Regions from separate parts of the Homo sapiens genome. Here regions 2 and 3 are each linked to region 1. The links come from fine-mapping of genetic effects on gene expression. A gene starts in region 1. Each other region holds a variant in brackets. All regions are shown on one strand. Distances are between the middles of the regions.

What was found. PIP is the estimated chance that this variant, and not a neighbour inherited with it, causes the effect.
Region 2: its variant is the best candidate, but not a certain one, in a credible set for the expression of AFF3 in T cells (TOPMed, PIP 0.83).
Region 3: its variant is the best candidate, but not a certain one, in a credible set for the expression of AFF3 in prostate (GTEx, PIP 0.58).

Annotation. Positions count from the first base shown.
Region 1 is chr2:100,140,632-100,144,808 of GRCh38, forward strand. AFF3 (ALF transcription elongation factor 3) reads right to left here and starts at 1,959. Exons shown (of 25, transcript NM_001386135.1): 1 at 1,853-1,959.
Region 2 is chr2:100,227,998-100,232,174 of GRCh38, forward strand. The region is part of intron 1 of LINC01104 (long intergenic non-protein coding RNA 1104); the gene reads left to right. Among named protein-coding and RNA genes, the nearest start is that of LINC01104, 22 kb to the left of the region's middle. The variant A/G (reference allele first, on the strand shown) is at 1,789.
Region 3 is chr2:99,907,624-99,911,623 of GRCh38, forward strand. All of the region lies in intron 7 of AFF3 (ALF transcription elongation factor 3), which reads right to left. Among named protein-coding and RNA genes, the nearest start is that of AFF3, 230 kb to the right of the region's middle. The variant T/C (reference allele first, on the strand shown) is at 2,353.

The DNA of each region.
Region 1 (4,177 bases):
AGAGGCACTGAATGCATGTTATATACTATCATTTGGATGTCACCGTTCCATGTGCCTATTTCCTGGTTTGCTGTACAAGATGTGTATGAGTACATGTCATCAAGCCCACAGAGCTCCAGAACATGTTCCTCTCACAAGCAGGCCTCATAGGGAGGGGTGTTCTGTGCTGTTCCTCTTTCCTGCTCACTACTTGTCTGTAGCTACAGTGTAAGGACTGTAATGTCACTGCTCTGGCCTTAAGTGTCACCCCCCAAACCCATTTTACACACACCACCTCCCACCTTTCACCTTTCCCAAACTCTTACCATGTCCCTTCAAGTTTGATGGCTTAATTGTACAAAAGGTAGTGATGATGATGATGATGATGATGACAATGATAACAGCTGCTAATACTTACTGAGCCCTTTCAATGTTCCAGGCACTTGTCTAAGCACTTTACATGTATTAGCTTATTTAATTCTTAAGAGGAAGGGATTACTATCTACTATTGTACTTGTGTTACAGATGTGGGAACTCCGATGCAGAGATGTATAGTGACTTGCCTAAAACCATCATGTTAGAGTGGGAATTTAAACCTTGAAATCTGGAAAATAAGCAATGTATATATTTTTCTATTTTCTAAATGCAAATCAAATATACATATGCATAACACCACTAAACACTAAGTGCAGTTACGCCTAGAACAAGGGAATAGCAGTTGACAGAAACACAACCAAAACTAAGAATATTAAATGTCTGTATTACTTTCACTGTAATCACTTCACTTCAACAGTGAGATGGGATAGCCCTAGGTAAAGGAAGGTGCTCTTGTAGTTAGAACATTCTTAAATTTTGCACCAAGGAACACATGCTTTTAATAATGGCAGAGACAACATTTTTTGATGGATTATTTAGTTTGTACGATCAACATTCAAAGAATGAGTTTACCACCACTTTGTTATTGTAAACACTTGACCTTTAGCTACCTGAATGATCCCCTCTTTGAATAAAAGGAATTATGAAACACATGTGTAGACATATTTCATTTTTATATATGTGAGACTCGAATAGCAAGGAAATCACATATTAGGAAAAAAACCCCTTTGTCTTGCTATTAGTTCTCTTTGGTTTCAAAAATCTGGTCACTGTGTATATTGCATTATATCATATGTGTGTGTACATATATATACACACATAAACACACATACACACAATGTCATGTGTATAAATACATGATGTGTTTATGCACATACACAGACACACACACACAAATACACACATATACAATGTTCCATCCAAGAAATACAAATATAGTGCTGTTAGCCCCTAACAGTGAGGAGGTCATTATTCCAAGTCATTTCTGCAGAAGTGACGGTGGCCTTAGGTGGAACTGCCCATGATCTCTCCTTGCAAGCTCACTCACTGGGGCCATTGACTGGGATCCAGTCTGTGGCCATGTCATGGTTTCTATTTTTGAGGTTATAGCTAATGAGCAACATGAGGTTAAGACACACTTTTCATAAGGCCCCAGCCAGCATCATAAATATGTGTGTGAGCATGTTCACACTCAGGTTATGTCTTCTTTATGTGCACCCTCTACCACACACACACACACACATGCACACGCACACACACTGACGGCTTCAGTGACCAACTTTGGTCACATCCCATCTCTTCCTTCTCAATCCCTCTGGCTGTTCACCAGGGCCTGGACCATCTCGGTGAGGCTGACCAAGAATGCTCCCCCTGCCCTGACCAGCGGAGCATGGGCACAGCTACTTAGAGCGCCACCCTTCAGGACACAAAGTCGGGGCTACCTCTCTTCCAGGCAAGGCATCCTAGAGGGCCCGCACACCCTCCAGTTTGATCTTACCTCTCAGCTCCCGTTCCTTTTCTTTCTCTCCCCAGTAAGTCGTTGAACGTCTTTCTTCTGAGGCTGAGCGTGGAGCTCTCTTCTCGCTGGCGAGCTTTCTGAATGGCACTTTCTGTACAAACAGGAAGAGCATGTGTGGTCACAACCCAAGTGTGCAGGTGTTGATAGAGGATGTGAAAGTGTGGAGGCGAGTGACTAAACCAGATACCCAACCGGCCAACTCTCACTTGTGGCAGGGCCTGGTCTACCAGAAGGCTGGAAGCAGGAACCTGGACTCTACTCTGGGGAGACCAACTGACAAAAGCAGAGGATGGTGGCCCTGGAGGCCAAGGGAGAAGGTCTCTTTGACTCCTGTGCTTTCTAACCCTATGCAGACCCATAAAAGAATCCCAGGAACATTTTGGAATCTCTTAGATATATGATTATCAAGAATGTTGATTTCAATGGGCTGCTTAACTTGTCCAAAGCTCTGCTGGTTTCCCAGGCTGTCTGGGCCTCCAAGAGATCAGGACCAAAGGCTCATCCTGCATTGGAACTGTGACAAGTCTTCCAGACCTTTCTAGAACAAAGCTACACCAGGAAAGAAGAGTCTTAGGCAAGGAATCAGATGTCCTAAGGCTGCTCTACATGACCTACATGATGGGTGTTACCTCCTCATCTCCCATTCAGTCAACCCACGGGCACTGGACTTCCTGCCCGACACCCTTCCCTCTCCCCATTCATGCCTGGAATTATTTTCACTAATGACACCAGGGATTCACTAATGGATGCTTTTTCAGTTCCTGTCCTATTTGTCTCCACTGGCAGTGTTTGACTTCCCTGTAGTGTTGACCATTTCTTTCCTCCCAGAACTTCTGCCTGGGCCGCCATGACTCCATACTCTCCTGGTTTTTGTCAGGCGGTCTCTCACACTGGCAGGCTTCCATTCTTTGGTCTTAATTTTCGCCCTCCTGCAAGCTCCACTCTCCGCCTCATGGTTCCTGTTCTCCATGGGTGGCCTCTTCCCAGCTCCAGATGGAACTTGCCAAGCCCACATCCATAGCATCACACATTTCTGCTGTTCTCCTGGAACATCCCCCAGCACCTCCCGTCAGACTCGCCACAATGAAACCCTGCTCTGTCCTCTACCCCACTCATTACTTACCATGTGGCCTGTGAATTCCCTCCTGCCTTGTCCCAGCTTGCTCCTCAGGTCTCTACCCCCTTCTGAGTTTACCACCTTCTGATCTCTCACTTTGCCTCTGCTAATCTGGCTTCTTCAGGTTTGACCCTCCATTATCCTCATCCAAACAGGCCCGTCCTTATCCTGAGAATGGATACCTAGAAACTTCCCCACCCAGTCCTATCCCAAGCCCTGGGAAATTATCCCAGTATTGTCTGCCTCATGTCCCTGGCAAGGAGAAAACGTTTCTTTATCTTATACCCAAACCAGAAATGGGGAGGCTTCCCACGTTCTTCTCTTTGCTGAATACTCTTCAACCTTCCATCACCAAGCCCTGCCCATTCTACCTCTTCAGTCACTCCTCAGATCCTTCTTCCCGTCCGCATCTCCACAGCCACACCCTCCCTCCATTGCCTCTCATCACTGCCCTAATCCCCAAGGGGTACGTGCACCCAGGGCACACCAGACCGTTCACTGAAGGATGAGAAGAAAGGAATTGAATGTCTATCTACCCACACTTGTCTGGTTTTTGTATTTAATTAAGACTCACATACCATAAAATGAGCCGTTTTAAGATGGGGAATCCTGTGGCATTGAGTACACTCACAATGCTGTGCAGCCACCACCTCCATCGAGTTCCCAGACTTACATCTATTTTTACGTCATGTTTTTAGTGTTTACATTTTGTGTATGTTTCAAGGCATGCAATGTGTGAATACAGTTGTATTGTATATCATTTGTGAATAATCATACATCTGCTCAGAATAGGCGGCAAAGACTTTTTTGCTGAAGAAGATACAAAATTAGAAAAGTGGGGACACGTGACCTCCTAACTCATCTCTCACATGTCAGGCTCTAGAGTGTTTTCCAAACTGCCTCCAAATTTTCTCTGCAAAAGACTACAAAAATGATGACAGTACACTCCCCTCACCCCACGACCAGTCCTTAAACGCTTCAATGGCTCCCTGTCACCCACAGGAAAATCCCAAGGCTCCATCGCTGGGCAGGCGAGATGTTGGATTCAGTGGCCTCTGCCCACTCCCCAATACCATCTCTTGCCATCCTTGATACCACTTCCTTCCTCACCACCCAACAATCCCACCACCACTCATGGTTTCTTGAACTTTCAGGCTGCTTTATGTCACAGCTTTGCACATGCTATT
Region 2 (4,177 bases), 87 kb after region 1:
CGAATCAGATGTTGAAAGTATTTAACAAGTATTTAAAAGTAGTCACTGTAAAACTGCTTTAACAATGAATTACAAATTCTGTTGACACAAATGGAAAAATTAAAATCTCAGAAAATAAGTAGAAGCTATAAAAAAGAAACAATCAGAAATTATAGAAGTGAAAAATCCAATAACTGAAAAATATTAAAGGTATTACATGGGCTCAATAGTACAGTGGAGCTGAGTGAGGCTAGAACTGATAAACTTGAGGAAGGACTCGTAGGCTTCACCCAATCTGAGCAACAGAGAGAAAATAAACTGAAAAACAAAAGAACAGAGCTTCAGGGACCTGTGTGAAAATAACAACAAAAAAAATCCAACATTTGTAACATCAGGGTCCCAGAGGATTCTGTGGCTGAAAGAGAATTCAAAGAAAGAACGGCTGAAAACTTCTCAAATTTGGCAAAAAGACATAAACCTACAAATTCAAGAAGTTGAGTGAATCCCAAACAGGATACATCCAAAATAATCCATGCCAAGACACATCAAATTAAAGTTCTGAAAACATAAAGACCAAAAAGAATTCTTGAAAGCAGCCAGAGGATAATGACACATTACCTATGGGGAAACACCAGTTTGCGTGACAGTGAATTTCTCTTCCTCTGAAACCCTGGAGACCAGAAGAAAGTGACACATTTTTCAAGCTCTGAAAGGAAAAAAAAAAATACCTGCCAGCCACAAATTCTACATTTGGCAAAACTATCCTTCAGGAATAAATAGTAAATAAATCTATTGTCAGATGACAGGACACCAAAAGATTGTGCGGTTAACAGACCTAATTTCAGAGAATGGCTAGAGCAAGTTTTCAAACAGAAGGGTAATGATGAAAGAAAGAATCTTGAGCATCAGGAAGCAAATACAATGGAAAGAGAAAATATATGGGTACATACGATAGGCTATCCTATTCCTTATGAGTGTCATCAATCATATTTGATTGAGGGAATCAAAATTACAAGACCAGTTCTCACTTGAGTCAATGAGGGGAAGGTAAAGGGGCCTGAATGGCAGTAAGGTTTTCACATGCCACTTGCAGTGGTAAAATGTTGATAGTAGTAGACAGCAATAAGTCACATATGTTCACTGTAATACCCAGAGCAACCACTGAACAGGCTATTCAAAGAGATACACTCAAACACATTATAAACACATCAAGATGGAATTCTAAAACTTGTGCAAGTAATCTATAGGAAGGTAAAAAAAAGAAACAGAAATGAGAATCATAGGAAAGTTACAAGAAACAGAAAATAAAATCGCAGGCTTAAGCTCTAACATATCAATAATTACCTTACATGTAAGTAGTCTAAACATACTAATTAAAAGGCAGAGATTAGTTTAGTAGATTAAAAACTGTGTGTCAACTATATGTTGCTTTTAATAAATTATTTCAAATTCAATGACAGGTACATCGAAAGCAAAAGTATAGAAAAAGATAGATGCAAGCAATAATACAAAAACAGAGGTAGCTGTATTGATATATGATTAAGTGGATCTCAAAGAAAATTACTTGGGACAAACAGGGATATTACATAATAATAAAAGAATCAATCCACTAGGAAAAATAACAATCCTAAATGTGTGCACACCGAGTAACGGAGCCTCAAAATCCATGAAGCAAAACTAATAAAACTGAAAGGAAAAATAAACAATTCCACAGTTGTAGTTGGATATTTCATCAGCTTCCTCTCAGCAACTGATAGAATTTCTAGAAAGAAAATTAGCTAGAAGACAGAAGATCTAAACAATGCAATT[A/G]GCCAATAGGATCTAATTGATACATATAGAACATTCCACCCCATAACAACAGAATATCAATTTTTTTCAAGGGCGTTCTGAAAACATACACTATCCTGGACCATAAAACAAACCTCAAAAAGTTTAAAGAGATTTGGCCAGGTGCAGTGGCTCACACCTGTAATCCCAGCACTTTGGGTGGCCGAGGTGGGCGGATCAAAAGGTCAAGAGATCGAGACCATCCTGGCCAACATGGTGAAATCCTGTCTCTGCTAAAAATACAAAAAATTAGCTGGGCGTGGTGGCGGGCACCTGTAGTCCCGGCTACTCAGGAGGCTGAGGCAGGAGGATCGCTTGAACATGGGAAGTGGAGGTTGCAGTGAGCCAAGATCATGCCACTGCACTCCAGCCTGGCGACAGAGCTAGACTCCATCTCAAAAAAAAAAAAAAAAAAGAAAGAAAGAAAAAAGTAAAGGGATTCAAATCATACAGATTATGTTCTCTGACCATAATAAAATCAAACCAGAACTCAGTAAGGTAAGGAAGTCAGGAAAATCTCTAAACACTTGTAAATTAAACAACACACTTCTAAATAATCCATTGGTCAAGAAGTAAGTTCCAAAGGAAATTTTAAAATATACACAGAACTGTGTAAAAATGCCACCACATTTTAAAAGCAGCCCTTGAAAATAAAAGTTTTTATAATGTGGACCTATAAAATAATTTAAATATGTTTTATTGTGTGATTTAAATATTGGATTGTCAATACACAGCTTGTCATCTTTTAAATCAAAATTGTAGAATGCTGCTTTGACTTCCACAGTTTTAAGAGGTTATAGAATACTACATATTCCTTTATAAAAATGGCATAATTTATTGAGAAGAGCCTATCTCTTATTTCACATATCCCAGGGACTGTGGTGGCAGGCAGGGAGCATGTGGTTGGGGTATAGGCCATGTTGCTCCTTTTCCTCTGCTCAGCTTTTAAAAGTCAGGGCCTTCCTCTTCTCCATTCACACTCTCTCCCCAAGGTCTCCTCCAGTTCCACAGCTTTAAATGCTGCCATGTGTCAACAAGTCTCCATTAGATGACTTTGGCTCTGGACTCCAGAGGCACTCATCCAACTGCAAGCTTGATGTGTCCTCCTGGATGGGCATCTCGCCCACCCACAGCAGGGCTCTCCATTTCTCCTCAAACCTGTATCTCCCTCATTCAGCCAGTCATTCAAGCTAGAATCCTGGCAGCCATCCTAGATTCCTCCTGTTTCCTTACATCCGTTTCATATCCATAACACACATCAGCAAGCTCTGTGGCCCCCACTGCTGTCCATTCCTCTCCTCTCCACCTCCCTCCATCCCTTCCAGCCAAACTGCCTGATACTGTTTGGCTCTGAGTCCCCACCCAAATCTCATCTTGAATTTTACTCCCATAATTTCCACGTGTTGTGGGAGGGACCCGATGGGAGATAATTGAATCATGGGGGTGGTTTTCCCCAAACTGTTCTCGTGGTAGTGAGTAAGTCTCACGAGATCTGATGGTTGGATAAGGGGAAACCCGTTTTGCCTGGTTCTCAATCTCTTTTTGCCTGTCCCCATCTATGTAGGATGTGGCTTGCTCCTACTTGCCTTCTGCCATAATTGTGAGGCCTCCCCAGCCAAGTGGAACTGTGAGTCCAGTTAAACCTCTTTCTTTTGTAAATTGCCCAGTCTCAGGTATGTCTTTATCAGCAGCGTGAAAACGGACTAACACACCGCCATCTTTCTGGTCTCCAGGAACGCAGCAGCCTCCCACCTGCCCTCCTTGCTGCTGCTCTCCTCTCCCTGCAATCCACCCTCCACACAGAAGGAAACCTTTTAAAACATGTAAAGCAGATGACGCTACTCCCTGCTTACAAATTTCCAGTAGCTTCCCATCACACTTAACACTTGTTTATTCATTTATTGTGTTTCCTTCACCAAGAATGTGTATTCCATCAGAGCTGATTCCTTTCTGTCTGGTTCACTCCAGTCCTCTCAGGACCTGGCCCTTAATGAGGGATTCCATAAGTATTTGTTGAATAAACAAATAAATAAACAGGGTTTGAGGAGGGCAGCAACAGCCAGGATCATGAAATAAACTATTTTGGGAACCTGTATCAATGTACAATGACATGACTGTTATTCACGTATATAATCTGATCACAACAATGTAAAAATAATGTGTGTATAGAAAGTGCCTGGAAATTAATAAAAATGTCAGCAACGTTTTCTTTAGATGGTGGGCTTATGAGTGATTTTCCTTTGTCTTTCCTCTAAAATTGTATTCTCTAGGATTAGCATGAATATGTGGCCAAGTGTGGTGGCTCACATCTGTAATCCCAGCACTTTGGGAGGCTGAGAAAGGATTGAGGCCAGGAGCTTGAGACCAGCTT
Region 3 (4,000 bases), 230 kb before region 1:
GTTTTTTTCTTCTTGTTGTTGTTTTGTTTTTTTTAGATAGGGTCTCACCCTGTCACCCAGGCTGGAGTACAATGGCACGATCCCAGCTTACTGCAACCTCCGCCTCCCAGGTTCAAGCGATCCTCCCACCTCAGTCTCTCGATTGCAGGTGTGAGCCACTGTGCCTTGCTGGAATGCTACTCTTAATATAAAACAAATACTATGTTTACTAACCACATTCATTCTTGGGTTCACTGTATCCTTTTTGTCCCACTAGAGTCTACCTTCTGATTCTCCCCTTCCAAGCAAAGAGAATCTTGATCCTTTACTGTCAGTCTTGATTCGAGTGAATGAGTACTGGCCTATGACCATGGGATGCGTACAAATTATCTGGTCTTTAACAAAACTGTCTGCCTGATGCTTGTTTCCATTCAGGTGGCTTATGCTTGCCCAACTTTCTCCTATTTCATAAATTTTAATCTGTTTTGGCTATGTCACCTCCTGCCTATTGGTCTAAACCAATAACTGGTCACCTATTTGCCACTGAACATAGTTTTCAACTTTTCACTCATGTCATTGATCAAGAGATGAATAAAAATAACCTTTTTTTGGAATAGGTGGGGAAAGAATTCCCTATTTAATAAATGGTGCTGGGAAAACTGGCTAGCCATATGTAGAAAGCTGAAACTGGATCCCTTCCTTACACCTTATACAAAAATTAATTCAAGATGGATTAAAGACTTACATGTTAGACCTAAAACCATAAAAGCGCTAGAAGAAAACCTAGGCAATACCATTCAGGACATAGGCATGGGCAAGGACTCATGTCTAAAACACCAAAAGCAATGGCAACAAAAGCCAAAATTGACAAATGGGATCTAATTAAACTAAAGAGCTTCTGCACAGCAAAAGAAACCACCATCAGAGTGAACAGGCAACCTACAGAATGGGAGAAAATTTTTGCAACATACTCATCTGACAAAGGGAATATCCAGAACCTAAAATGAACTCAAACAAATTTACAAGAAAAAAACAAACAACCCCATCAAAAAGTGGACAAAGGATATAAACAGACACTTCTCAAAAGAAGACATTTATGCAGCCAAAAAACACATGAAAAAATGCTCATCATCACTGGCCATCAGAGAAATGCAAATCAAAACCACAATGAGATACCATCTCACACCAGTTAGAGTGGCGATCATTAAAAAGTCAGGAAACAACAGGTGCTGGAGAGGATGTGGAGAAATAGGAACACTTTTACACTGTTGGTGGGACTGTAAACTAGTTCAACCATTGTGGAAGTCGGTGTGGCGATTCCTCAGGGATCTAGAACTAGATCTAGAACTAGGAATACCATTTGACCCAGCCATCCCATTACTGGGTATATACCCAAAGGATTATAAATCATGCTGCTATAAAGACACATGCACACGTATGTTTACTGTGGCACTATTCACAATAGCAAAGACTTGGAACCAACCCAAATGTCCAACAATGATAGACTGGATTAAGAAAATGTGGCACATATACACCATGAAATAGTATGCAGCCATAAAAATGATGAGTTCATGTCCTTTGTAGGGACACGGATGAAGCTGGAAACCATCATTCTCAGCAAACTATCGCAAGGACAAAAAAACCAAACACCGCATGTTCTCACTCATAGGTGGGAATTGAACAAAGAGAACACATGGACACAGGAAGGGGAACATCACACACCGGGGACTGCTGTGGGGTGAGGGGAGGGGGGAGGGATAGCATTAGGAGATATACCTAATGCTAAATGATGAGTTACTGGAGGGAGGGGGGAGGGATAGCATTAGGAGATATACCTAATGCTAAATGACGAGTTACTGGGGGGAGAGGAGAGGGATAGCATTAGGAGATATACCTAATGCTAAATGACGAGTTACTGGGTGCAGCACACCAACATGGCACATGTATACATATGTAACAAACCCACACGTTGTGCACATGCACCCTAAAACTTAAAGTATAATAATAATAAAAAAAAAAGAAAAGAAAAAAGAAAAAGCGTTTCTCCACAGAGTGGAGAAGTTCTTTTGGGTCTCGGTATAGGCCATGTCAGCTGCACAGTGAAAACCAAGAATGTGGCATTCCTTGCAAAGAAAGGAGATTCATTTTGAAATTGCTTCTCAACTTTCACGTAAATTATGCCCAATATTTTAACACATTGACAATATGATCAGCTTTCTACTTCAGAATGTGCTGAGTTTTTTCCCTATCTTTATGCAGTTGTGAAGTACCTATGAAACCAAGTGGATAAACACAGTGTTATGGGCTGAATTATATTCTGCCAAAAGTTCATGTGTTGAAGTCCTAACCCCAGTTCCTCACAATGTGACATTA[T/C]TTGGAGATAGGGTCTTTACAGAGGTAATAAAGTTAAAAAGAGCTAAAAATAAATAAATAAATAACCTTCTTATGTATAGCCGCAGTATGTTCAATCTGAAATGAACTTTGAAATACAAAATGTACTGATTTGGATTGAAAAGAGCATTACTACAATGCTATCCCCTGCCTCAGAGACTATTCGCTAAATATTAATTCTATTAAAATGACCATTCAGGAGAAAAGCACTCTTAATACCTGATTTGAGAATAAGCATACTTCTGTTTAGACAATAATAGAAAACAATTCTCCCATTATTTATTCACTAAGCATTGGTAGTTAGCATTTTTATTGCTCATTTGTTTTCATTTCCAAGCAGATTTTTCAAAACTAGACTTGATTAATAATATACTATATTATGTAGTAGCATTTGGATATTATAAAACATTAAGGAAAGGTCTAGATAGAGGATACAAATATGTTCTTCCTCCACTGCTACTGTACTTCATTTTGATCACTGCATGTGCAAAGGTATGCATCAGAAACTTCTAGATGAAAACTGCTAATTATTACAAGGATGCCATAAACAATCTTGCCTTCTGCATCACTGTGTAATAGTGCAAACAGGAATAACATGTCTTGGACCAAAGTGTAAGGAAAACTGTGCTTCTCTAAGTTGCTAAGTTGATATTTAAGGACAATATGACTCTCAAAGCCCTTCGAGTTTCTCTTTTAACTTCAGCTGCTAGGAAGCTCAAATCCTGTCTACAGGCTACTTTTACTTACAATGTAATAATTGCATGAATTTTAACAAGTCACCTTACATTCTTTTCTAAAGAAGGACATAAGAATAGCATTGTAGTTTGGAAGGCTAAGATATATGTGATCATTTCGGGAGCTCTGACCAGCTTCGCTGTTTGGCTGGACAAATCACATAATTAGAGCTAACATTAGACACTTCTCCACATAGGAAATTAAGACTCTACAATGCCTTCCCTCTTATCCAAGCTCACTCTGATATTTGGTGAAGTTTAACTGAAGAATCTTAAAAGAAAGCTTTTACATAAATGCTAAGGAAGGCATAAAAAATGCTTCTGATTTGCGCACACATGCCGTATAATAACCCAGTGCAGTGTCTGAGTCAGAGCTGCTAGGGTGTGGGCTTCCTGGGGCGGAGCACCTTAGTCCATCTATTCTGTTAGTTGTCTGATGCTTTCCTTTTGACAATCGATTGACCTGTTTTGTAGGAAATGTGGCACTATGGGTCTTCATGATTTTGCATGATTAGCCGGGCATGGTGGCACATGCCTGTAATCCCAGCTACTCAGGAGGCTGAGGCAGGAGCATCACTTGAACCCAGAAGGTGGAGGTTGCAGTGGGCCGAGATCGTGCCACTGCACTCCAGCCTGGGCAACAGAGTGAGACTTCATCTCTGGAAAAAAAAAAAAAAAGAAAGAAAATGCACTTTTTATGCTGAGGGACAGGCAGTGCAAAGGATGTGAGTCTGGCTGCTGTCGCAGGTTCTGACCCCTTTGACATGGAAAAATTCCAAGTAGGAAGGTTCAGTAGTCATTTGGGGTTTCCAGTGCCCTAGGACTCATACTGAACTTTACTGATCAACACTTGAACTGCACAGAAATGCAGCTTGTAAATGCAGGTATTATGTATT